Linked DNA regions of Homo sapiens. The protein of the gene in region 4 purifies or fractionates together with the protein of the main gene of each other region. This does not show direct contact. Each region holds a gene or a part of one and is shown on either strand. Other genes may lie near its edges.

Evidence for each region.
Region 1: the proteins of RDH12 (region 4) and ZBTB8OS purify together in Homo sapiens (affinity purification with mass spectrometry, with the first as the bait; one large-scale study listed by BioGRID). This does not show direct contact.
Region 2: the proteins of RDH12 (region 4) and CCDC25 purify together in Homo sapiens (affinity purification with mass spectrometry, with the first as the bait; one large-scale study listed by BioGRID). This does not show direct contact.
Region 3: the proteins of RDH12 (region 4) and CTH purify together in Homo sapiens (affinity purification with mass spectrometry; one large-scale study listed by BioGRID and IntAct). This does not show direct contact.

Annotation. Positions count from the first base shown.
Region 1 is NC_000001.11:32,642,685-32,648,731, reverse strand, and holds part of ZBTB8OS (protein archease), read left to right. Parts: intron 1-6,047. UniProt on the Homo sapiens protein: Component of the tRNA-splicing ligase complex required to facilitate the enzymatic turnover of catalytic subunit RTCB. Together with DDX1, acts by facilitating the guanylylation of RTCB, a key intermediate step in tRNA ligation.
Region 2 is NC_000008.11:27,765,184-27,771,230, reverse strand, and holds part of CCDC25 (coiled-coil domain-containing protein 25), read left to right. Parts: intron 1-5,979; coding exon 5,980-6,027; intron 6,028-6,047.
Region 3 is NC_000001.11:70,426,714-70,432,760, reverse strand, and holds part of CTH (cystathionine gamma-lyase), read right to left. Parts: intron 2,968-6,047; coding exon 2,910-2,967; intron 2,445-2,909; coding exon 2,367-2,444; intron 679-2,366; coding exon 526-678; intron 1-525. UniProt on the Homo sapiens protein: Catalyzes the last step in the trans-sulfuration pathway from L-methionine to L-cysteine in a pyridoxal-5'-phosphate (PLP)-dependent manner, which consists on cleaving the L,L-cystathionine molecule into L-cysteine, ammonia and 2-oxobutanoate.
Region 4 is NC_000014.9:67,707,268-67,713,314, reverse strand, and holds part of RDH12 (retinol dehydrogenase 12), read right to left. Parts: intron 1-6,047. UniProt on the Homo sapiens protein: Retinoids dehydrogenase/reductase with a clear preference for NADP. Displays high activity towards 9-cis, 11-cis and all-trans-retinal. Shows very weak activity towards 13-cis-retinol.

The DNA.
Region 1 (6,047 bases), on a different chromosome or scaffold from region 4:
AGCCGAGATTGCACCACTGCACTCCAGCCTGGGCGACAGAGCCAGACTCCATCTCAAAAAAAAATTATTTTTAATAGGTCATATATATTGATTTGAAATTCAGAAAGTGTAACATAGGCAGTGAAAAGTAACTCTGGCAGCCCCCATCCTCAACTACCTAGTCCCCCTCTGTAGAGCAGTCATCGTTACCTTTTTCTTACATGTACATACCTAGATGTTCTAGCATTTGCTTTAACCAATTTTCAGTTGATGGACGTTTAGGCTATTTCTACTCTTGTGGTATTAGAAACAGTGCAGCAGTGAATACACTTGTACATCCACTGTTTTGTACATGTGCAAGTGAATCTGTAGAATCAAGTTCTCCAAGTTTTTTTTGTTTCCATTGCTAAGACTCCTACATTTTTTAAAAGGATATTTTAACTTGGACAGTTATTGCCAAATTGCTCTCTATAGGAGTTGTACCAATTTATACTTTCACTAGTATTGTGTGAATGTGCCTCTTTCCTCCCACTTCTACTAATTGTTACCATACTTTTTTATCTTTTCTAATTTGTAAAGTATACTTACTGTATTTTTCTTATTGTAAGTGAAGTTGAACATATTATACTGTTTTGGAAGCTATTTGTATTTCCCATTCTGGGGTGTGTATGTTAATATTCTTAGCCCTTTTTTCTCTTGGGTTATTTTTTTTTTGTCTTGGGTTGTTGGTTTTTCTTACTAGGCAGAAAGTGTTTTTATGCAATGCAGTTCATTAACCAGCGGTCCCCAACCTTTTTGGCACTAGGGACTGGTTTCACGGAAGTCAGTTTTTCCACCAACGGGGGTTGTAGGGGAGGATGGTTTCAGGATGATTCAAGCGCATTACATTTATTGTGCATTTTATTTCTATTATTATTACGTTGTAATATATAATGAAATAATTATACAACTCACTGTAATATAGAATCAGTGGGAGCCCTGAACTTGTTTTCTTGTAACTAGATGGTCCCATCTGGGGATGACAGATCATCAGGCTTTAGATTCTCATAAGGAGCACACAGCCTAGATCCCTCAATGTGCAGTTCACAATAGTGTTCAAGCTCCTATGAGAATCTAATGCTGTGCCTGATCTGAAAGGAAGTGGAGCTCAGGCAGTAATGTTAGCAATGGGGAGCTGTTGTAAATATAGAAGAAGCTTTGTGAGCTCATGTCCTGCTGTGCTGCCTGGTTCCTAACAGGCCACCAACTGGTACTGGCCAGGGGGTTGGGGACCCCCTGCATTGACCCTTTCTTTCTTTTCTTTTTTTTTTTTTTTTGAGACAGAGTCTCGCTTTGTCATCCAGGTTGGAGTACAGTGGCATGATCTCCAGTCACTGCAACCTCTGCCCCCCAGGTTCAAGTAATTCTTCTGCCTCAGCCTCCTGAGTAGCTGGGACTACAGACATGCACCACCACACCTGGCTAATTTTTTTTTTTTTTTTTTTTTGAGACAGAGTAGCTGGGATTACAGGTATGCACCACCGTGCCTGGCTAATTTTGTATTTTTAGTAGAGATGGGGTTTCTCCATGTTGGTCAGGGTGGTCTCGAACTTCCAATCTCGAACTTCCAATCTCAGGTGATCCGCCCGCCTCGGCCTCCGAAGTGCTGGGATTACAGGCGTAAGCCACCACGCCTGGCATTTTTTTTTTTTTTTTTTTTTTTTTTTTTTTTGAGACAGTATCTTGCTCTGTCTCCCAGGCTGGAGTGCAGTGGCACCATCTCAGCTCACAGCAACCTCCGCCTCCTGGGTTCAAGTGATTCTCTTGCCTCAGCCTTCCGTATGGCTGGGATTACAGGTGCCCACCACCACACCCGGCTAATTTTTGTGTTTTTTTTTTAGTAGAGACAGGGTTTCACCATGCTGGCCAGGATGGTCTTGAACTCCTGACCTCAAGTGATCCGCCCACCTGAGCCTCCCAAAGTGCTGGGGTTACAGGCATGAGCCACCACTCCCGGCCAACCCTTTTTTTTATGGCTTCTAAGATAAGAAGTCATACTCAGGGAATGCCTTGTCCACTGAGATTTTAAAATAATTTTCCTAATTTTTTTTTTATACATTTGAAAATAGAACTTTTGGCCGGCGGATCACGAGGTCAGGAGATTGAGGCCATCCTGGCTAACATGGTGAAACCCTGTCTCTACTAAAAATACAAAAAAATTAGCCGGGCGAGGTGGCGGGCGCCTGTAGTCCCAGCTACTCGGGAGGCTGAGGCAGGAGAATGGCGTGAACCCGGGAGGCGGAGCTTGCAGTGAGCCGAGATTGCACCACTGCACTCCAGCCTGGGCAACAGAGTGAGACTCTTTCTCAAAAAAAAATAATAATAAAATAAAAAACTTTAATTGAATAACCTGGAATTAGATACCAAGAAAAAAAAATCTTTTTTTTTTTCCCTGAGACAGTCTCATTCTGTCACCCAAGCTGGAGTAGTGCAGTGGTGCGACTTTGACTCACTACAACCTCTGCCTCCTGGACTCAAGTGATCCTCCAACCTCAGCCTCTTGAGTAGCTGGGATTACAGGCGTGCACCATCATACCCAGCTAATTTTTCATTTTTAGTAGTGATGGAGTTTCACCATGTTGGCCAGGCTGGTCTCGAATTCCTGACCTCAGATGATCTGTCTGCCTTGGCCTGCCAAAGTGCTGGGAGTACAGACGTGAGGCACTGCACCCAGCCAAAATACATCTTTTATTGAAGTATGATGTACTTATAGAAGAGTGCCCGTGTCATAAGTGAATTTTCAGAAACTGAGTACACTTGTATAAGTAGTATAATAGTTCTCAAAATGTAATCTCTGTATTCCTGGGGTTCCCTATATCCTTCCAGAGGGTCTGTGATGTCAAAACTATTTTCATAATAATACTGAGGTGTTATTGTTTTCACTGTGTTGATATTTGTACTGGTGGTACAAAATCAGTGGTTGGTAAAACTGGCCCCAGCCTGTAGTCCCAGCTACTCCAGAGGCTGAGGTGGGAGCATCACTTGAACCCAGGAGTTTGAGACTCGGCTTGGTCTTTTGGAGCTATAATTGTACCACTGCACTCTATCCTGGGCTACAGAGTAAGGCTGGGCTCTATCTTTTGGAGCTATAATTGCCCCCACTGCACTCCATCCTGGGCTACATAGCAAGACTCTGTCTGTGAAAGAAAAAGCAAAAACAAAATCTCTTGGCCCTTTAGTACAAATTGAGACAGCAGCACCAAACTGTATGCTAGAAAGGGTCTCCCTCTGTCTCCCAGGCTGGAGTATAGTGGCGCTGTCATGGCTCACTGCAAGCTTGAGCTCCTAGGCTCAAGCTGTTCTCCCACCTCAGCCTCCTGAGTAGATGGGACTACTGTCTATGCCTGGCTACTACACCTAGCTAATTATGTTATTTTTTATAGAGATGGGGTCTTGTCGTGTTGCCTAGGCTGATCTTGAAATCCTGGCCTTAAGCAATCGTCCTGCCTTGGCCTCCCAAAGTGCTGGGATTACAGGTGTGAGCTACTGCACCTAGCCCTAAGGACATTCTTGAATGAAAATGACTTTTTTTTTTTGAGATGAAGTCTCACTCTGTTGACAGGCTGGAGTGCAGTGGCGCCATCTCGGCTCACTGCAACCTCCTCCTCCCAGGTGCAAACAATTCTCCTGCCTCAGCCTCCTGAGTAGCCAGGACTGCAGGCACACGCCACCATGCCCAGCTAATTTTTGTATTTTTAGTAGAGACGGGGTTTCACCATGTTGGCCAGGATGGTCTCAATCTCTTGACCTCGTGATCTGCCCACCTCGGCCTCCCAAAGTGCTGGGATTACAGGCGTGAGCCACCGTGTCTGGCTGCCTTTTTATTATTATATTATTTTTAATTTTAAGTGCGTGGTAGTAAATTAAACACCTGGGTGAGGTGGCTCGTGCCTATAATCCTAACACTTTGGGAGGCCTAAGCCGGAGGATTTCTTGAACCCAGGATTTCCAGATTAGTCTGGGCAACACAGTGAAACACATCTCTACAAAAAAAAAAAAAAAAAAAAAAGCTGGGTGTGGTGGCATGTGTGTGTAGTCCTGTAGTCGCACCTACTGGGGAAGCTGAGCCAGAAGGATTGTTTGAGCTCAGGCGTTCAAGGTTGCAGTGGGTTATCATCATGCCACTATACTCCCGGCCTGGGTGACAGAGTCCCTGACTCCAAAAAAAAAAAAAAAAAAGGAAAAAGAAAAGAACATTCTTAGGATAGAAGCAGTGGCTCACACCTATAATCCCAACACTTTGGGAGGCTGTAATGCCCAACCTGGTATTTACTAACTCTGTTTTTAGACTCTCCCTTTTCCCTTAATCACCTAGTCTTGTTTCCACCTGAATTGACTCTCCCTTAGCTAAGAGAGCCAGAGAGACTCCATCTTGGCTCTTTCACTGGCAGCCCCTTCCTCAAGGACTTAACTTGTGCAAGCTGACTCCTAGCACATCCAAGAATGCAATTAACTGATAAGATACTGTGGCAAGCTATATCCGCAGTTCCCAGGAATTCGTCCGATTGATAAACGCCCAAAGCCCCGGATCTATCACCTTGTAATAGTCTTAAAGCCCCTGCACCTGGAACTGTTTACTTTCCTGTAACCATTTGTCCTTTTAACTTTTTGACTACTTTACTTCCGTAAAATTGTTTTAACTAGACCCCCCCTCCCCTTCCTAAACCAAGGTATAAAAGTTAATCAAGCCCCTTCCTTGGGGCCGAGAGAATTTTGAGCATTAGCCGTCTCTAGGTCGCCGGCTAATAAAAGACTCTTAATTTGTCTCAAAGTGTGGCGTTTTTCTAACTCGCTTGGGTACAACAAGGCCAAGGTGGAAGGATCACTTGAAGCTAGGAGTTTGAGCAACCTGTGCAACCTAGTGAGACCCCCATCTTTTTAATAGAAAAAGAAAAAAAAAAGTAAAAAAAATTAGCTGGGGCCAGGCATGGTGGCTCACGCCTGTAATCCCAGCACTTTGGGAGGCTGAGGCAGGCGGATTACGAGGTCAGGAGTTCAAGACCAGCCTGGCCAACATAGTGAAACCCCCTCTCTACTAAAAATACAAAAAATTAGCCCAGTGTGGTGGTGCACGCCTGTAGTCGTAGCTACTCGGGAGGCTGAGGCAGGAGAATAGCTTGAACCCGGGAGGCAGGGGTTGTGGTGAGCCGAGATCATGCCACTGCACTCCAGCCTGGGCCACAGTCCCAGCTACCTAGAGGCTGAGGCAGGAGGGATCTCTTGAGCCCAGGAGGTCAAGGCTGCTGTGAGCCATGATTGTGCCACTGTACTCCACCTTGGTAGACAGTGAGAACCCATCTCTTTAAAGAAAAAAAAACCAAAAACTAAAACAAAAACTAAAGGCCAAGTGCAGTGGCTAATATCTGTAATCCCAGTACTTTGGGAGGCCAAGGCGGGTGAATCACCTGAGGTCGGGGGTTCGAGACCAGCCTGACAAACATGGAGAAACCCCCGTCTCTACTAAAAATACAAAAAATTAGCCATGCGTGGTGGTGCATCCCTGTAATCCCAGTTACTTGGGAGGCTGAGGCAGGAGAATCGCTTGAACCTGGGAGGCAGAGGTTGCAGTGAGCGGAGATCGTGCCATTGTACTCCAGCCTGGGAAACAAGAGCGAAACTCTATCTCAAAAAAAAAAAAAAAAAGGCCAGGCACGGTGGCTCACGTCTGTAATTCCAGCATTTTGGGAGGCCGAGGCCCGCAGATCACCTGAGGTCAAGGGTTTGAGACCAGCCTGGCCAACATGGTGAAACTCTGTCTCTACTAAAAATACAAAAATTAGCCGTGCGTGGTGGCGCGTGACTGTAATCCCAGCTACTCCGGAGGCTGAGAGCAGGAGAATCCCTTGAATCTGGGAGGCGGAGGTTGCAGTGAGCTAAAATTGGACCATTGCACTCCAGCCTGGACGACAGAGGAAACTCCATTTGAAAAAAAAAAAAAAAAAAAAAGACCTAGAATTGATGGAAAGGGAATGTTCTGGTTAAGATAAAAGATTGTGGAGAACAAAGTTCTTTTGAAGTCCTATAGTGGC
Region 2 (6,047 bases), on a different chromosome or scaffold from region 4:
CAAACTTGTACAGCACGTTGCTGTACTGAATGGCTGTAGGCAATGGTAACGCAATGGTGTTTGTGTATTTAAACGGGTCTCAACGTAGAAAAAGTGAGTTGCACCACGCTGTTATGATGGCTACCAGGTCATCAGGCAATAGTGATCAGAATTTTTCAGCTTCGTTATAATGTTATGGGACCACCATAGTATGTGTGGTTTGTTGCTGACCAAAGCATCATTATGTGGCAAGTCCCTTTATATATGGAATTCAGTGTTGTCCTCGGTTTCAGGCATCTGCTGGAGATCTTGGAAGACATCCCCCACAGATAAGGGGGGACTACTGTACTTGTTTCCCTAACGTAGTGACTGGTTAGTAGTTCTCAATAAATGCTTGTTGAATAAATGAATGCCATTTTTTTACTTACTTATAGCACTTTCTATTCTATTGCTACTCTATATGCTTGTTAAAGGTGAGTTTTTTGTTTTTGTTTTTGTTTTTTTTTTTTTTGGAGACGGAGTTTTGCTCTTGTTGCCCAGGCTGGAGTGCAATGGCACGATCTCGGCTCACTGCAACCTCTGCCTCCCGGGTTCAAGCGATTCTGCTGCCTCAGCCTCCTGTGTAGCTGGGATTACAGGAATGCGCCACCAAGCCTGGCTAATTTTGTATTTTTTTAGTAGAGACGGGGTTTCTCCATGTTGGTCAGGCTGGTCTTGAACTCCCGACCTCAGGTGATCTGCCTGCCTCAGCCTCCCAAAGTGCTGGGATTACCAGCATGAGCCACTGCGCCCGGTCTAAAGGTGAGATTTATTTTATTTATTTTTGAGACGGAGTCTTGCTTTGTCACCCAGGCTAGAGTGCAGTGGCACGATCTCAGCTTACTGCAACCTCCATCTCCTGGGTTCAAGCGATTCTGGTACAGCTAGGATTACAGGGACCAGCCAACATGCCTGGCTGATTTTTGTATTTTTAGTAAAGATGGGGTTTCATCATGTTGCTCAGGCTGGTCTTGAACTCCTGAGCTCAAGTGATCTACCCACCTTAACCTCCCAAAGTGCTGGAATTACAAAAGGTGAGTTTTTGTTTTGTTTTGTTTTTTGTTTTTTTGAGATGGAGTCTCCCTCTGTCACTCGGGCTAGAGTACGGTGGTGTGATCTCAGTTCACTGCAACCTCTACCTCCTGGGTTCAAGCAATTCTACTGCCTCAGTCTCCCAAGTAGCTGGGATTACAGGCACACGCCACCATGCGTGGCTAATTTTTGTATTTTGTTAGTAGAAACGGGGTTTCACCATATTGGCCAGGCTAGTCTCGAACTCCTTACCTCAAGTGATCCACCCGCCTCGGCCTTCCAAAGTGCTAGGATTAAAGGCGTGAATCACCACGCTCAGCCAAAAGGTAAGATTTAAGTGAAACTAGTTCCACATTGTTTGTGTGGGTTTGAATAAGGCAATACTTTCTCTTTAGAAGTAAGATTGAGGCTCAGGGAAGTTGTAACTCACAGACCCTACTCTTCCACCTTCATCACACTGACATCTCCTTATTTTTCTCAGTAGTTTAGCCTTCCACAGTGTGTGCCATGAGCTATTTCTCTGTCTCTGTACATGTGGTTTGTTTTACCCATATTATTAAAATTACTAGAAACAAAATTCAAAACCAGCCTGAAAAATCATATACCCTTATAGGCCTCTAAGCATTTTCGTCCTTGGCAACTCAGGCATCTCTTTATAACTTCTCCAGTTGTGAATCTTCAACAACATAGATATCCATATAAACCCAACAATGGAAAAACAAATATACAGGCAGGGTGTATAGGTACTGAATGTATTTTGTGCTGTTCTATTCCCCTTAAAGTTACTCTGAATTCTTTAAGTGTTAGTCACACATACACATCTGCCCTTAATAGAGCAAAATGCTTCACTAGATTTGTGGGTCCTGTTTTTTTTTCATTGACTTCCATTATAATGTCAGAACTGTTTCCTGTTAGAAAAATATTTGGCCTCTAAGCCTAATAAAAGTGCACTTGTGCAGCTGATCTTTTAAAACTGCAAAGTTAATGGAAAAATCATAACTTTCTCAGTAAAATAGTAATGAGACTTTACATATTGGCAGTATAGAAACAACAAATATATAGAATCTTCAGGAAATGAATTTGTATGGCTTGCCAAGTTTTTAACTAACTGATGGTTTTTACTGCATAAAAACTTTTTTAAAATGGGAAGAAAATCTTCATAGGAAGTTGTTCTTTTACATTTTAAGATTAATATCTGACTAAAATGTGTTCCATTTTCATTCTTTCATGCTGTCTCATAAGGGAATAATTGAACATTAGTCTAATAAGTCCAGTGTCACATTTAAGACCATCTGATTATAGATACTTGGCTCAAAGTCCACTTGTACTTTTAATACCTGTTAATATCATCTGCCTAAAAGTAGATTGTTCTATAAATTGTGAAATAATCAGATCACCTCTGAAGTTGGGTTGGTTGCTACCCGTAAGTCAAGTGTCTTCCAAATAACCGGTTCCAGTACTAATCAACCATATTATTTAGATGAGAATAACAAATGAACTAGAATAATTCAGTTTACTTTTCCTTCTTAACATGGAAAGGAACTTAATTCAGACTTGTTGTGCAGCAATGATGTTCCTTTTTATTTTTCATTTTCTTTTCTTTTTTTTTTTTTTTTGAGATGGAGTCTTGCTCTGTCTCCCAGGCTGGAGTGCAGTGGCATGATCTCGACTCACTGCGACTTCTGCCTCCTAGGTTCAAGCGATTCTCTTGCCTCAGCCTCCTTAGTAGCTGGGATTACAGGCATGTGCTACTACGGCTGACTAATTTTTGAATTTTTAGTGGAGACAGGGTTTCGCCATATTGGCCAGGCTGGTCTTGAACTCCTGGCCTCAAGTGATCCTCCCGCTTCAGCCTCCCAAAGTGTTGGGATTACATGCATGAGCCACTGCGCCCAGACTAATTTTCTATTATGACATAATTTCAGTCTTTCAGAGAAGTTGCAAGTATAGTAAAAGATTTCCTGTATATTCTCCCAGAGTCCCCCAATTTTTTTTGAGACAGTCTTGCTCTGTCACCCAGGCCGAAGTGTAGTGGCAAGTGTAGTGGTGCAGTCACAGATCATTGCAGCCTCAACTTCTTGGGCTCAAGTGATCCTCCCACTTTAGCCACCACACCCAGCTAATTAAAAAAATTTTTTTTTTATAGAGACAGGGTTTCCTCATATTGCCCAGGATGGTCCCGAGCTCCTGGGCCCAAGTAATCCACCTGCCTCAGCCTCCCAAAGTGGTGGGATTACAGACGTGAGCCACTGTGACTACAAATTCTGACATTTTACTACATGCCTTGTCTTTCTTTTTCCGTTTCTCTTTTTCTCTATTTTTTTCTCTTGCACACACCTTTTTCCTGAAACGTTTGTAAGTTGCAGTTAACCCCTGAATGCTTCAGATTTATTTTCTAAAATCAAGGGCATTCTCTTCTCAAAAGACGTTTTTCATCATCAAAATTAGGAAATTAACATTGCAGCAATGCGATTATCTAATCAACAGGCTTTATTCCGTACCCATTAGTGTCCTAATGATGTATTTGTAACAAAAAATACCTTACAAATCATTGTTGCATTCTTCAGGTGTCATTATTCTGTAGCCTCCTCTAATCGCGAGCAATTGCTCAGTCTTTGTCTTTCATGGCATTGTTAGTTGAATTATTTTGTAGAATGCCCCTCACTTTAGGTTTGTTATGGCCATTTTCTTAATCACCTCATTTAATAAGTCAACCATCAAAACATTCCTCTATTATTATTTTGGCTGTAGCTTAGACAGCTTGGCCTGCAGAGACAACTTTATTAATATTTTATATCAGTTATTATTTTTTCTTTTTTGAGACAGTCTTGCTGTCACTCAGGCTGGAGTGCAGTGGCATGATCTTGGCTCGCTGCAACCTCTGCCTCCCAGGTTCAAGCAATCCTCATGCCTGAGCCTCTCCAGTAGCTGGAACCACTGGCGTGTGCCACCACACCTGGCTAATTTTTGTATTTTTAGTAGAGATGGGGTTTCAACATGTTGGCCGGGCTGGTCTCAAACTTCTGGCCTCAAGTGATCTGCCCACCGCGGCCTCCTGAAGTGCTGGGATTACAGGTGTGAGCCACTGCACCTGGCCTATATTGTTATTTTGAAAATTCTGTTCTAATTACAAAAGCCATCTGTATGTTTTATAGCAGGCTAACCAAGGTAACTGTTGTTAAAAAATGTTTATGCTTCCATACATATGAAGTATGTGCTTATATAAAAATAAAACATGTATGTGTATGTATATACACACACATACCATTATAATCATTTATTTTTTATAAATTGAATCATATAGATACACAAAAATACTGTTCGGATATTTAATTTCTTCACCTGCCGTTTCTTTTTAATGGGTACATGGTATTTTGTTTATGGATGTTCAAATCTGTAATATATTTAAAGAGTCTCTATTAAGGGATGTTTAGGTTGTAAAAAGATTATTGCTTGGTGGAGTATTTTGGTACTCTATTATGGTAACATTATAGGTAGTGACGTTATAGGATTGAAAGGGTATACACTTGAACTATTGCCAGGCCATGCAGAGAAAATCTGAAATGCTTTTTAGTTTTATTCCCACCCTTTTGGCATTTGTTACACGCTACACTAAGGCCTGATCAAGGTACTACAATGCTCAATAATAGACAAGCATTTCTATAAACTTGGCGATGCACACATTCTTTCAAGGTACTTTTCTCAACTACTTCTGGACTTCAGTTATTATAAATGTTAAACAAAGGAATTAGTTTTCTCTCCCCCGAGAAAGGCAACTAGGATTGATCATTTAAGAAGCTTCTCATTACTGAAAGTACAGGGCATCTCTCTGATATAAGGCTTTTTAATTTAGGAGAGCGTATTGCCCTTTGTCCTTCAGGGCTCCAGGTACATGTGTGTGTTCTGTGCTGTGGAGTGATAGCCAGCAGGCTGTTCAGCCCAACCCTGCACTTATCAGTACTTTGCTTCAGTGTGTATTTATTTTTCAGTACTTCTCCATCACAGGCTTTGTAGCCTGAGGGCCCAGTGTCTATGAATTCAGGAGTTTAGTCCAATTGGATCAAACAAGTTTTGGTAAACTAGCTTTGAAACCTGGCACTCAGTTATCCTTTCAGTAGGAATCCAAGGTAGGGACGTCTGCAATAAAACACCACCTTGGTAAAGCAAATATCATTTCTAGGATAAACCATACCCAGAAGATTCCATTTGAGTTAGGATAGTTGTTTCTAACCCTGACCTTATATTAGAATCACTTGGAAGGCTTTTAGAAAACACAGATGCTCACTCTTGCCCACCAGAGATTTGGATTGAGTTGATCTGAGGTGGAGCTGGGGCATAATTAGATGATTCTAATGTAGATCAGGGGTCAGAGTCACTGGTTTAGAAGTTGGAGAGTCATGGTCTCCCTGAATGTGATAGAGAGCCTGTTAGAATATGCAGCACACCTGGAATATGGGTAATATTGGCTAAAAACAATTATGCACAATAAAACTTTGGTAAACATGGGAACTTAGTTGTGGTGTTTAGTTTTCTTTTCTTTTCTTTTTTTTTTAACTCTTAAAGAAGGCAAAAGTATAGGACTGGACTGGCGATACCATTGAACTGTAACCCTGAGAAAGTAGGAAAGTAGCTATTAGTAAGGATGGTAAACTTTCTCTTTTGGGGCCAGATAGTAAATATTTTAGGCTTTGTGAGTCACCTACAATCTCCGTGGCTTATTCTTCTTTGTTTTGCTTTTTTTCCAACCCTTTAAAAACGTAAAAACCATTCTTAGCTCAAGGGCTGTCCAAAAACAGGTGGTAGGCTGGATTTGGATCATGGGCCATGGTTTGCCAGCCCCTAGTCTAAGAATTGTCACTTGTTTTTCACATGAAACAATTTTGTTGGTGATGAAGTTACTAATTGTTTTTTATTTTTGTTTTATCTTAGTTAATTCATCTGCCTACACTATTTACATGGGAAAAGATAAATATGAAAGTAAGTTTTCAAAAGCATTT
Region 3 (6,047 bases), on a different chromosome or scaffold from region 4:
AGTGAGCTGAAATTGCATCATTGCACTCCAGCCTGGGCAAGAGTGAAACTCCGTCTCAAAAAAAAAAAAAAAAAAAAAGAGAGAGAGAGAACCTCAGGGGAATTTTAGCACCTAATATCAAGTCTCAACTGGGACAAACCTCTATCAGATTAAAGTGACAGCTAATGCTGAATAGCAGACAGACAAGATTATAAGCAAATCAACTGAAAAGTCTAATGTTAAAATCTTTGAATAGGTATACACAAGCCTTCAAATCACAGACCACCACAGGAACAACTAATGCATAAAACTGATTTTCTACTATCCAAGCATCCACTAAACTAGAGGCAATACAACAGTAGAGACCAGGTCTATCTTCTTTCCACCTGACCCACCACAGAGCCTGACACATGGCAGTGCTCAATAATAAATGAACAAAAACAATACGTGAAAGCACCTAACTTACAAATAAATGTTACATAAACACGATGCTCAGGATAACTGCTGAAATCCTAGTAGATCTGCTTAGAAATCAAATTAACATACCAGGATAAATAACCTTTTCTACCCAAGGATTAGATTCCAGGAACTGGGCAACTGCCATTCCGTTTTTGAAATGCTTTTCCATTCGGACATGTAGAGTCTTCAGACCTCGATTGCAGAGGTAACAATCAATAGGAGATGGAACTGCTCCAAGAGCTGCAAAATGAACACATCCTGGATAAGTTTGAAGGCAGGGTATGGCCAAGAAATTATCTGGCTTCTCTTTTCCATTACAGTGACTCTCAGAAGCTAGGTGTAAAGCTCAATGTTTGAGTTCTAGGAGGAAAATAATATATCAAATCAGAAGCAGAAGAACAAAGCATAGAATATGCTTAGAGAAATTTACTTTAAAATGAGGGGAAGCAAATATGCTGAAAACTAAGTAAAAGCACAATGATATAAACTTCTCAAATATGAAGATAAGTAGTCCTTTCTATGATTTTAATAAAATCATAAATTGTTCATAGCCTAACCTTGTATTTCTTTGAAAAATTATTTTAACATACAGAGAAAAACAGCAGTTCAAGTCCTATTATTACTGAATATTCTACTAATATTCTATTTAGCCTTTGTGCAAAGCGGTCAATGATTTCACATGCCTCCAGGATATATACTTCATTTCTACTTTTTATAAACCAAAGGACACTTATCAAGCAATAAGTTTCAGTTTCCCTTGTGGAGGACATTTTTATTCCTAATCATGTTTATATTTTACCTGTCAAGTTACAATGGCTTAATCTTTAACTATACTGGAGATAAACTAAGCAATGTAAATAGGAAATGGTGTTTAGACATCTATTGAAAAATGTAAGTTTATACTGTAAGTGCTATTTAAAATTAACCATCATTCGTGATATAAAAGGTATAGTATATGAAAGCCCTCATTTCAAATGTAATTTTAAAAAAGAAAAAAAAACCATTAAGTCTTGAAACTAAAAATTCACTAGGGCTTTATCAAATTATGATTATAATTAAGATGGACATGAAAATAAAAAAACTCATTTCTTATATCATATCATAAAGCCTTGCTATGCTATAACCGTTTTTGTTTTTTGTTTTTTGAGACAGGATCTCACTCTGTTGCCCAGGCTGGATTGCAGTGGCACGATGTCAGCTCACTGCAACCTTCGCCTCCCAGGCTCAGGTAATCCTCCTGCCTCAGCCTCTGAGTATCTGGGACCACAGGCACATGCCACTGCACCTGGCTAATTGGTTTGTATTTTTGGTAAAGACAGGGTTTTGCCATGTTGCTCAGGCCGATCTCAAACTCCTAAGCTCAAGTGATCCACCTGCCTCAGCCTCCCAATGTGCTGGGATTACAGGCATGAGCCACCGTGCCCAGCCTGCAATAACTATTTTTATAACACTTTCCTCTAAAATCAGAAAAAATTTTTTTGGCCAGGCACGGTGGCTCATGCCTGTAATCCCAACACTTTGGGAGGCCAAGGCAGGTGGATCACCTGAGGTCAGGAGTTTGAGACCAGCCTGGTCAACACGGTGAAACCCCGTCTCTACTAAAAATATAAAAAATTAGCTGGGCATGGTGGTGGGCACCTGTAATCCCAGCTACTCAGGAGGCTGAGGCAGGAGAATCGCTTGAACCCAGGAGGTGGAGGTTGCAGTGAGCTGAGATCACGCCACTTCACTCCCGCCTGGGCAACAGAGTGAAACTCCATCTCAAAAAAAAAAATTAATAAATAAAAAAAATCAGAATTTTTCTCCTCTATTTTTCATTTCTTCATAAATTATTAGAATGCCATCACTTCACATCACTTAGTGGAAATACAAATATCAAATGTAGTCACTGAGAGTGTCATAGGGAACCTGCACTTTTTAATACTTACAGTTTTGCAAGAAACGAAGTCTATTATGAAGGCTTTCACAATTAACAGACACCAGGCCCATTACAACATCACTGTGGCCTAAAAACAAAAAACAAACAAACAAACAAAAATTTCAGTTAGAAACAATTTATGTTTACTCTTTATTTTATAATTTTCAAAATGTGATTTTCACTTGAAAAAACTCTCAGGGAAAAAGCTCTATAAAATAAGTTTAAGTAACCTTTATTCAACTGGACAGTAGCAAAAGCTATGTCTAAAACAAGAAAATAAAAATTATATAAAAACAAAATGTTTCTTTAAGGTGTCAGCAAGATAAAAGCATAACTTTTTATGGCCAACTTTAATCCTCTTCTCATAAATCATGAGCATAGTTTTGTGTACTGTTAATGAAATCCTACATTTAATCAAAGGATTTTTTTTTTTACTCTCTCTATGAGTCACAGGAAATAATCTACAAAATAATCAAAGAAAAGGGATCAAAAGCCAAGCCCTATGCAATTTTCACCTATCCATGAAAAAGAACATTCAAAGTATGCATCTTACCATTCATGTATTTTGTTGCAGAATACATAGAAATATCAGCTCCCAGAGCCAAAGGGCGCTGAAAGAACAAGTTTTTTACTTTAAATGAGAAACAATTTGAAAATATGCTTCATTACCTGCCTATTTGCAATTATAAATTCCATTCTTATTCTAATCAATACTAACTTTGCAAAAGTATGTGCATCTTAAAATTTTCCAGGATCTCTGATATTATTTCTCCTTTGCCTCCCTCCCACCAAAGAAAAATGTAAAGTATTGAATCCAGTATTGAATCTGAAGGCAAAAGTTTCTTGGAAAGCGCAGATAAGCCCAGGTCAACTGGTCTCTTGAACCTGTTTCTTTATAGCAATTGCTGACAGGACTCTAAATTTATTACCTACAGTAGAGACTCTAGTATTTTATGACTCATTAAACACATAAAATAGTTGAAATGAACATTCAGCAATTTTTATGTAGAGTAAGTATAAACTCATCTGCTTAGATTTTTAATCATTAAAACCTCATGACGTATGCTGTGATTATTTACATTTGGGGTTTGTCATGATCTTGATTCCTAATTACTCAGCCCTTCCTATGTGTGGGTTTCACATCCATGGATTCAACCAACCATGGGTAAAAAAATACTTGGAAAAATAGATGAACAGTTGTGTCTGTATTGAACATGTACAGACTTTTTTCTTGTCATTAGTTCCTAAACAATATAGTGTAACAACCATTTATAAAGCATGTACATTGTATTAGGTATTACAAGAAATCTAGACGGCTGGGAGTTGGAGAATGGCTCACTCCTGTAATCCCAGCAATTTAGGGGGCTGAGGCAGAAGGATCACTTGAGATCAGGAGTTTCAGGCTGCAGTGGACCATGATCAAGCCGCTGCACTTCAGCCTGAGTGACAGAGCAAGACTTTATCTTAAAAAACAACAAGAAAGAAAGAAATTTGCTGGGTGCGGGGGCTCATACCTGTAATCCCAATACTTTGGGAGGCTGAGGTGGGTGGATCACTTGAGGCCATGAGTTTGAGCCCAGCCTGGCCAACATGGTGAAACCCTATCTCTACTAAAAATACAAAAAAATTAGCTGAGCATGGTGGCACGCACCTGTAATCCCAGCTACTCAGGAGGCTGAGGCAGGAGAATCACTTGAACCCAGGAGGCAGAGGTTGCAGTGAGCTTTTCATGACACCACTGCACTCCAGCCTGGGTGACAGAGCAAGATTCTGTCTCAAATAAATAAATAAATAAATAAATAAATATGTCTGAAACTGGGAGAATTAAGAAAAATAAAAATGAAAAGGAATTTTTAAAAGTGTTTTCTTTCACCCAATTTTCCTGTAAATTAATCCTTTAAGTCATGGAGTATAATGTGATGCTCAATACATGTGTAATTGTGTAATGATCAAAAGCAGGGTAATTAGCATGCCCATCATCTCAAATATTTATCATTTCTTTGTAGTAGAAACATTTAAAATCCTCTCTCCTATTTTGATATATACAGTATCTTATTGTAACTATGATCATCCTTTTGTGCAGTAGAACACCAAAACTTATTCCTCTATTCCTCCTTCTAATTGTAACTTTGTACCCATTGACCATCCTCTGTCCTCCCCACCTCCACCCTCCCTTCCCCAGACTCTAGTAACCGCTGTTCTATTCACTACTTCTATGAGATCAACATTTTTTACATTCCACACATGAATGAGATCATGCTATATATGTCTGTCTGTGCCTGGCTTATTTCACTTAACATAATGTCCTCTAGGTTAATCCTGTAGTCTTAAAATGTATTTGTTTACAACCAGAGTGAAAAGTGTAGACTTTCCACTTAATAAAACACTGTCAAGCCGGGAGTGGTGGTTCACGCCTGTAATCCCAGCACTTTGGGAGGCCTAGGCAGGTGGATCACTTGAGGTCAGGAGTTTGAGACCAGCCTGGCCAACATGGTGAAACCCCATCTCTACTAAAAATACAAAAATTAGCGGGGGGTGGTGGTGGAAACCTGTAATCCCAGCTACTCGGGAGGCTGAGACAGGAGAATTGCTTGAACCGGGGAGGCGGTGGTTGCAGTGAGCTGAGATCGCGCCACTGCACTCCAGCCTGGGCGACAGAGCAAGACTCCATTTCAAAACAAACAAACAAACAAAAACATACATTATCAACATCTTTCCCTTTACATTTTCCTAAACATAGAACTGTGTGTTTTTATTTCACCCTCATTAGAGCTGTTTAGTCTTTGGAAGATATTAGTATAGGTGGCTATGGGAACTTTTCATTTAGGGTTCCTAAAGGGATGGGGTCAAAGTAGGTGAGGCCTAAGGTCTTTTCTAGTGCTAACATTCTGTAAACTCTACAGCCAAAAGAGAAGGAAAAATAAAAACCAAATCACTAACACCTCTGATCTCATTATCTTCTGAGAATCATGCTACGTACTTTATATAACCCAGGGAAGCAGTGTACAAAATACCTAACTCAATAAAATCAGTACCTTTATGGCTCTCATCATACAGGTGAGGAAAGGGGACTAAGAAAAATGAGATAGATCCCTCAGATTAAAAAGCTGGTAGAGCCAGGACTCACACCCAGACTGCCTGACTCCAGAGGTGCTACTCTGAAACTTGATGATGGTAGGTCTATTTTGCCTTTCGTGAGACTTACAGAAGATCCAGAGGACAAAAGACTGGGAAGAAAGAGAATATATTCCATTTTCATTAAGGTAAGACAATGAGAAGATTTTTTTCAGGAAGATTTGCTTCATGGAAACAACACATGTGGCTACTTAGGGATGATGCGATTCTGAGTATTTCAGCTGGAATAAATCCAAATTGAAATGAAGCAAATTCCAATCATTGGCATGCGGAATGTGATGTGGGCTTCAAAAAGGTAGAAAAACTAGACCTATGTTAGTGACAGTAATAGGAGAAAGAGGGCCAGGTTTGATGAGTAACCCGGGCAGGTCCAGGCTACAAAACGTATGCAATCTTTTTGGGAATATACAGGACTCACTGTGTCTCAGCTAAAGCTATCCTATGCTGTATTAACTGGCCTAATGTAAGTGGCATATGGGCTAAGGAGTTGCGATAAGGAATCTTACACTGAAAACCACCTGGGACAAATAGAAGATGCCAAATAGACAATGCCAGA
Region 4 (6,047 bases):
GAGCTCACTTCCAATAGGGAAAATGAGGTTTTTTTTTGTTTTGTTTTTTGTTTGTTTGTTTGTTTGTTTGTTTTTCCTGCTTCTAGGATGGTAGAGAGTTGTTTTCAGCCTGAGACCCATCCCTAGGTATGTAGCTGAATTGAGGTTTTGTCTTGGCTAAAGTTAACAAAAAGCTGGTTTTAATTTCTGCTTACCATTAGAGTGCTCAGTGATCATATAAGTTGTGCCATTGTTTATTTCTGTTTTTATTGTTGTTTCAGTCTTTTTCCTGTTGGGTTTCATCAATTCTATCCAACTTGATCAAATCCAAAGGAAAGTTCCAAATTATGGGGAATAAGTCCTCTGAAGTGGTTAAATTCCCACACACAAAAAAGGGTGGTGTAGGAGAAAAATGGCCAGCAAAAGAAAAAAAAAAGAGAAGGGAACATTTTTTTATTTTGATTACTAAAGGGGCTTTATTTTCATAACAAGGCCACCTTTTTGCTAGCTGCCAACTGAAAGCAATGGCTGTCACCTCACCCTGTAGTTCAATAGCTAAAGTTCTGCCTTCTTTTTTTCCCTATCACAACAGCCTAGGTTTGGTTCCTAAATCAAACCCTTTCTGGTTTGATACTTGGTACTTCTGAAATAGCAGCAATTTGTCCTAGATGAAATATAGTAATGAGATTTTAAAAGATTTTTTAAAATGAGCTCAATGGTTAAAAGTCAGCTTAATTAAAAGCTAACATCCAAGGTGTGTTTGTATTTAAAAGGCCTTCATGTTTTTGTTTTGTTTTTTTCTCACCCAAAACCTTGTCTTTTTTTTTTTTTTTTTTTTTTTTGCAAGTTTTTTCTTCTCAGTTGACTGAATTCTGTTTTCTTCATTAATAGCTATTGCAACAGAGGCCACTCTGGGATTTTTAAGGAAGAATGTAGCTTAGACACTTAGAAATGTCTTTATTAAAAAACAAAAAACAACAACAACAAAATTTTTAAGTGCACTATAAAAGCATCACATGGTTTAACCTCAAAATAATTCTCCCTTTTTGGAGACCCAGGATTCAGTGTGGGCTCCTCCCAGAGCTCAGAGATCCAGTTAAAAGACAGGTAGTCCCAGGCCGGGTGTGGTGGTTCACGCCTGTAATCCCAACACTTTGGGAGGTCAAGGTGTGTGGATCACGTGAGGTCAGGAGTTCAAGACCAGCCTGGCCAACATGGTGAAACCGTGTCTCTACTAAAAATACAAAAATTAGCTGGGTGTGGTGGCACATGTCTGTAATCCCAACTACTCAGGGGGCTGAGGCAGGAGAATCACTTGAACCTGGGAGGAGGAGGTTGCAGTGAGCCTAGATCGCACCATTGCACTTCAGCCTGGGCAACAAGAGCAAAACTCCGTCTCAAAAAAAAAGATAGGTAGTCCCTATCTAAATAAAATTTGTCTCCTTATACAATCCTATGATAGATTTCTGTAATTTTGTGTTTGATTTGACATCCATCTTCAATCTCCCTCTAGAACCATCAGACTTTTTCTCTTTGTACCTTATGGTGTAAATTTTGCTATTTGACTTTTCACCTGAGTTGTTTCCTTTAATATGAAAATTTAAGGCTATTTAGCTGAGAACTGCCTAGTGTTGTGAAACAGGTTATCAAGAATCTGGAAGTCTAAGATAGGAAAGAAAAAAGGTCTTTATGAATCTATAAGATGTACTTCTATTGGCATGACTAATATGTCAATGCATTTATGTGTTGTGTACACAATGTTTCACTACTGAAAATATATAAAAGAGCTCTAATTAATTGGCTTAAAGAAAAAGAAAAGCACTTAAATCATCAAATACTTTATCAGAAAAAGGAAGACTAGTCAAATCCTTTTTCAAGTTCATGTAACTTAAGTAAAATATTTAATAAATAAGCTAGCTTTAAAATTATTGGTAAAGTAATATTAGAAATGTCTTAAGAATTGCCAGCATACATTTTTGTTTGCATTTATTAATCAAGCAATTTCATACTTATTACTGCCAAACACTATAAGGTGTCAAAATTTGGCATAGGGATTAGAAAACTATAAACTCAGACCAAAACAGAATGATCTCTGCTTGTGTAATCTTTAATAAATAAGACATTGATATTGGTTTAATAAAAATAGCTAAACCTTAAATTTAGTAAGATTACCATAACTTTAATTTTGTGGCTTTAGGTGGTCTAGTCCACAGGAAGTAAGGTTTGTTATCGTCTTTGTTTCAAAGCTAAACTATAAACTAAGTTCCTCTCAAAATTTGTTTGGCCTATGCCCAGGAATGAACAAGGACAGTTTGAAGGTTAAAAGCAAGATGGGGCCAGTTAAGTTAAATCTTTTTCACTGTCTCAGTTATAATTTTGCAATGGTGGTTCCATAATTTTAAATGATGACTATCACAGTTTTCATAAATAATCTAGGTAAACAATGAAAATAAAATAATTAGGTAAATGTAATAGAATAAATACTTGTAGACACATTCATCATAATTTAGAATCTAAAGTTATATTAAATTAGATAATAGATATTTCATTATTTGGGTATTTTCTAATAAAAATATAATTGTAGGAAAACGTTCTTTCTAAAAAAAAAAGTGTGTCCTTTAAAAAAAAGTGAAAAATTTTTGTCTAATTCAAAGCTTATTTAAAGATCATGTATAAAACAAGGTAAAAGGAACCAGGAAATAAAAGAGATGTAAAGAAAGTTATAAAAATAAAGATTTTTTTTGTAAGAAAGCTTAAAGAGAAATAATTTCATATGAAAAAGAATATTGTGTGGTAAATTTAGTCCTAGAGTAAAATGACATGACTGGTTATTTAAGAAGGAGGGATGTTCAAGACAAACTGGAAAGTCCAAGCATGTCACAAAAGGTCTATGTAAGTCACAATAAGCGGATTTATAAAACAAACAAAACCAAAAACTTTTATATGATCAAGTTGTCATATTATTATTAAGTTTTGGTTTGCTTAGGAAAAAAAGATTAAAACTTTTTTTAAATTAAGGTTACTACATCTGTGTATCTCTCTTGTGAACCCAGAAAATCTCAGACAGGTCTCAGTTAATTTAGAAAGTTTATTTTGCCAAGTTTGAGGACGAGCCCATGACACAGCCTCAGGAAGTCCTGATGACATGTACCCAAAGTGGTCAGGGAACAGCTTGGTTTTATACATTTAGGGAGACATGAGACATCAATCAATATATGTAAGAAGTACATTGGTTCAGTCTGGAAAGGTGGAACAACTTAAAACAAAGGCAGGAAGACTCTAAGTGGGGAGGGAGCTTCCAGGTCACAAATAGATAGTAAACAAACGGTTACATTCTTTTGAGTTTCTGATTAGCCTTTCCAAAGGAGGCAAATTAGATATGTATCTATCTCAGTGAGCAGAGGAGTGACTAAATAGAATGGAAGGCAGGTTTGCCCTAAGCAGTTTCCAGCTTGAGATTTCCTTAGTGATTTTGGGGGCCCAAGATATTTCCTTTCACACTCTTTATGCTCTTTTAAAGTACTTGTGACATTGAGTTACAGGGCTTTGATGCCTTGGTCTAAAAAGGACATCAAAGTCCTGCTAATTTTTTAAACACTGACAGCCATTAAAGCCCCCCATCTTCAGGCCTGGTAGAAGATGCCAATCAAAATAAACTGTATTCCTGAAACACAGGGCCAGAAATTAAAGCTATTAAACTCCTCAAGGCCCAGGGACTATCACAGAAGAGATGGGCATGTGAGATTGTGAGGGCCAATTTTAAGAGATAAAACAAGTTCTGTTTCTCTACATGTTAATCATTAATGTCAAAGGCACACTGATGCAAGACCAGCATATGGGCCCCTGTGTCAGATTAACAAGGTTTTCTTGAAGCATTAACCAACTCCTAAAGGTTATAAAGGTTATGAAAGGCTTATGAAAGTTATATCTTATGGTCAAGATTAAAATGTTATAGATTGTTTATAAAATTTTGAAAAATGAATTTAATTGGCTTCATGCTGTTTTTATTAGGGCTTATTGTTTGGAAAATTAAGTCTCCTCTCTCAAAGAATGAAGGTTTTCACCTTTTTTGGGGAAATCCTTGAGTTATCACTTTGGTTAAATGAATAACTTATTTCACAATGACCTATTAATTCTATTTTGTGATATCAAGTGTTTTAAACCTTTGATATTTGACAAACTTTCCAAAATCAAACTATAAATTATGTCTTTTTCTGACCTAATTAATCCTTTAAGATATTGTTGGGCCTGGCACAGTGGCTCACACCTGTAATCCCAGCACTTTGGGAAGCCAAGGCCAGCGGATCATGAGGTCAAAAGATCGAGACCATCCTGGCCAACGTGGTGAAACCCCATCTTTACTAAAAATACAAAAATTAGCTGGGTGTGGTGGCGCATGCCTGTAGTCCCAGCTACTCGTGAGGCTGAGGCAGGAGAATCACTTGAACCTGAGGGGCAGAGGTTGCCGTGAGCCAAGATTGCACCACTGCACTCCAGCTTGGCGACAGAATGAGACTCCCTCTCAAAAAAAAAAAAAAAAAGGTATTATTAATAGGTTCCCTAGAGTCCGAAAATGACATATTTGGCTTATTTGGTATAAAAATTATACAGGAAGCATAGTCAAATATGAAATGGTGTTTGGTTTTCTTTGGGCTGTATTTGTATAAATATGTTACTGGTATGTGTTCCAAAATCATGGGAAACTCCTGTAATTTTGGTATGACTTAGTGTACATTATCAGTAATAATTATAATTGTTATGTTAAATTATCATATGCCACAGAGATAACAAATTTCCTTGTCAATTGTTTCTTTATGGCTGCCCTAAAACCTTTCATCATCCACAGACAATTGTTGTCTTGTTTTGGTCCTCCTTAGAAGGTGGTTTTATAATCAGCTATAGAACTCTAACAGGTGTTCTTAAATGCAGGTTTCTGATAACTTTGGAGATTGTAACCTTAGAATAGAGGAAAAAACTTTCAGGACTCTCATGGAGAGCTGAAGTGTTCACGAATATCAAGCAGAACAGGATTAACTGCATAAACTAAACTGATAGAAGACTAAAGTAATATTTTTAACTTTTTGCTTAAAACGTTGCTGATCCTTTTTTTTGTTTTTCAGAGTCAAGAAAACTTTTCTTTTAAGCTATTTACAGCTTTTAGCAATTGACTAAAGTATACTCCCATGAACAAAACTTGGGGCATATTTGTGTCTCTCTGCCTAATTTCTCCAGAATTTGGAAATTATTTGTGAGTATTTGTAACTTATAACAATACAGCTATTTACGTAAGTGCAGTAAGAATCTGTTTCCATTTGTAACAGGACACAATTGGAGAAACTGGTTATTTTATCAAGACTTTGACTGGAATGGTGTGCTTTCCCTTGGAATCAAACTTGACTTCTGGAACCAAGATAGCCCCTTGGAAAAATTGGCCTCTTACCTTTATCTACACAGCCCCTGTACAGGGTTCCTGATCTGTGGTAGGTAAAGAATGTCACTTTCTGACAGGCCCAGGAGCCCCAAGTTTACCTTGGAACCTCAAGAGGAGAGGTTAACTCAATTCATAGGTATTTGATAGCACAAATCCACGGCTGGGCTCAGCTTTAAAGAAGTCTTATCTGAGATTCTTTCTACAGAACACAGTTTCATCAAAGCCAATTTAAAAGCCTATGTAAAAAATAATTATTCTTACCAGCCTGGCCAACATGGTGAAATCCCATCTCTACTAAAAATATAAAAATTAGCTGGGTGTGAAAGCACATACCTGTAATCCCAGCTACTTGGGAAGCTGAGGCAGGAGAATCACTTGAACCCAGGAGGTGGAGGTTGCAGTGAGCTGAGATCACGCCACTGCACTCCAGCCTGGGCAGCAGAGTGAGACTCCATCTCAAAAAATATATATATATTCTTGCTGCTCTGTATACAAATAATTAGGCCAAGTATAATAAAGCAAACAAGTCCTACCATAATTTGTCTTTAGTAAAAATGGGAAACTGGAGAGAGAAAAGATTGTTTCAAAAAGTGTAGTACACCTATTGTTAGATTTTAGTCTTGCCTAATGTTTTGCA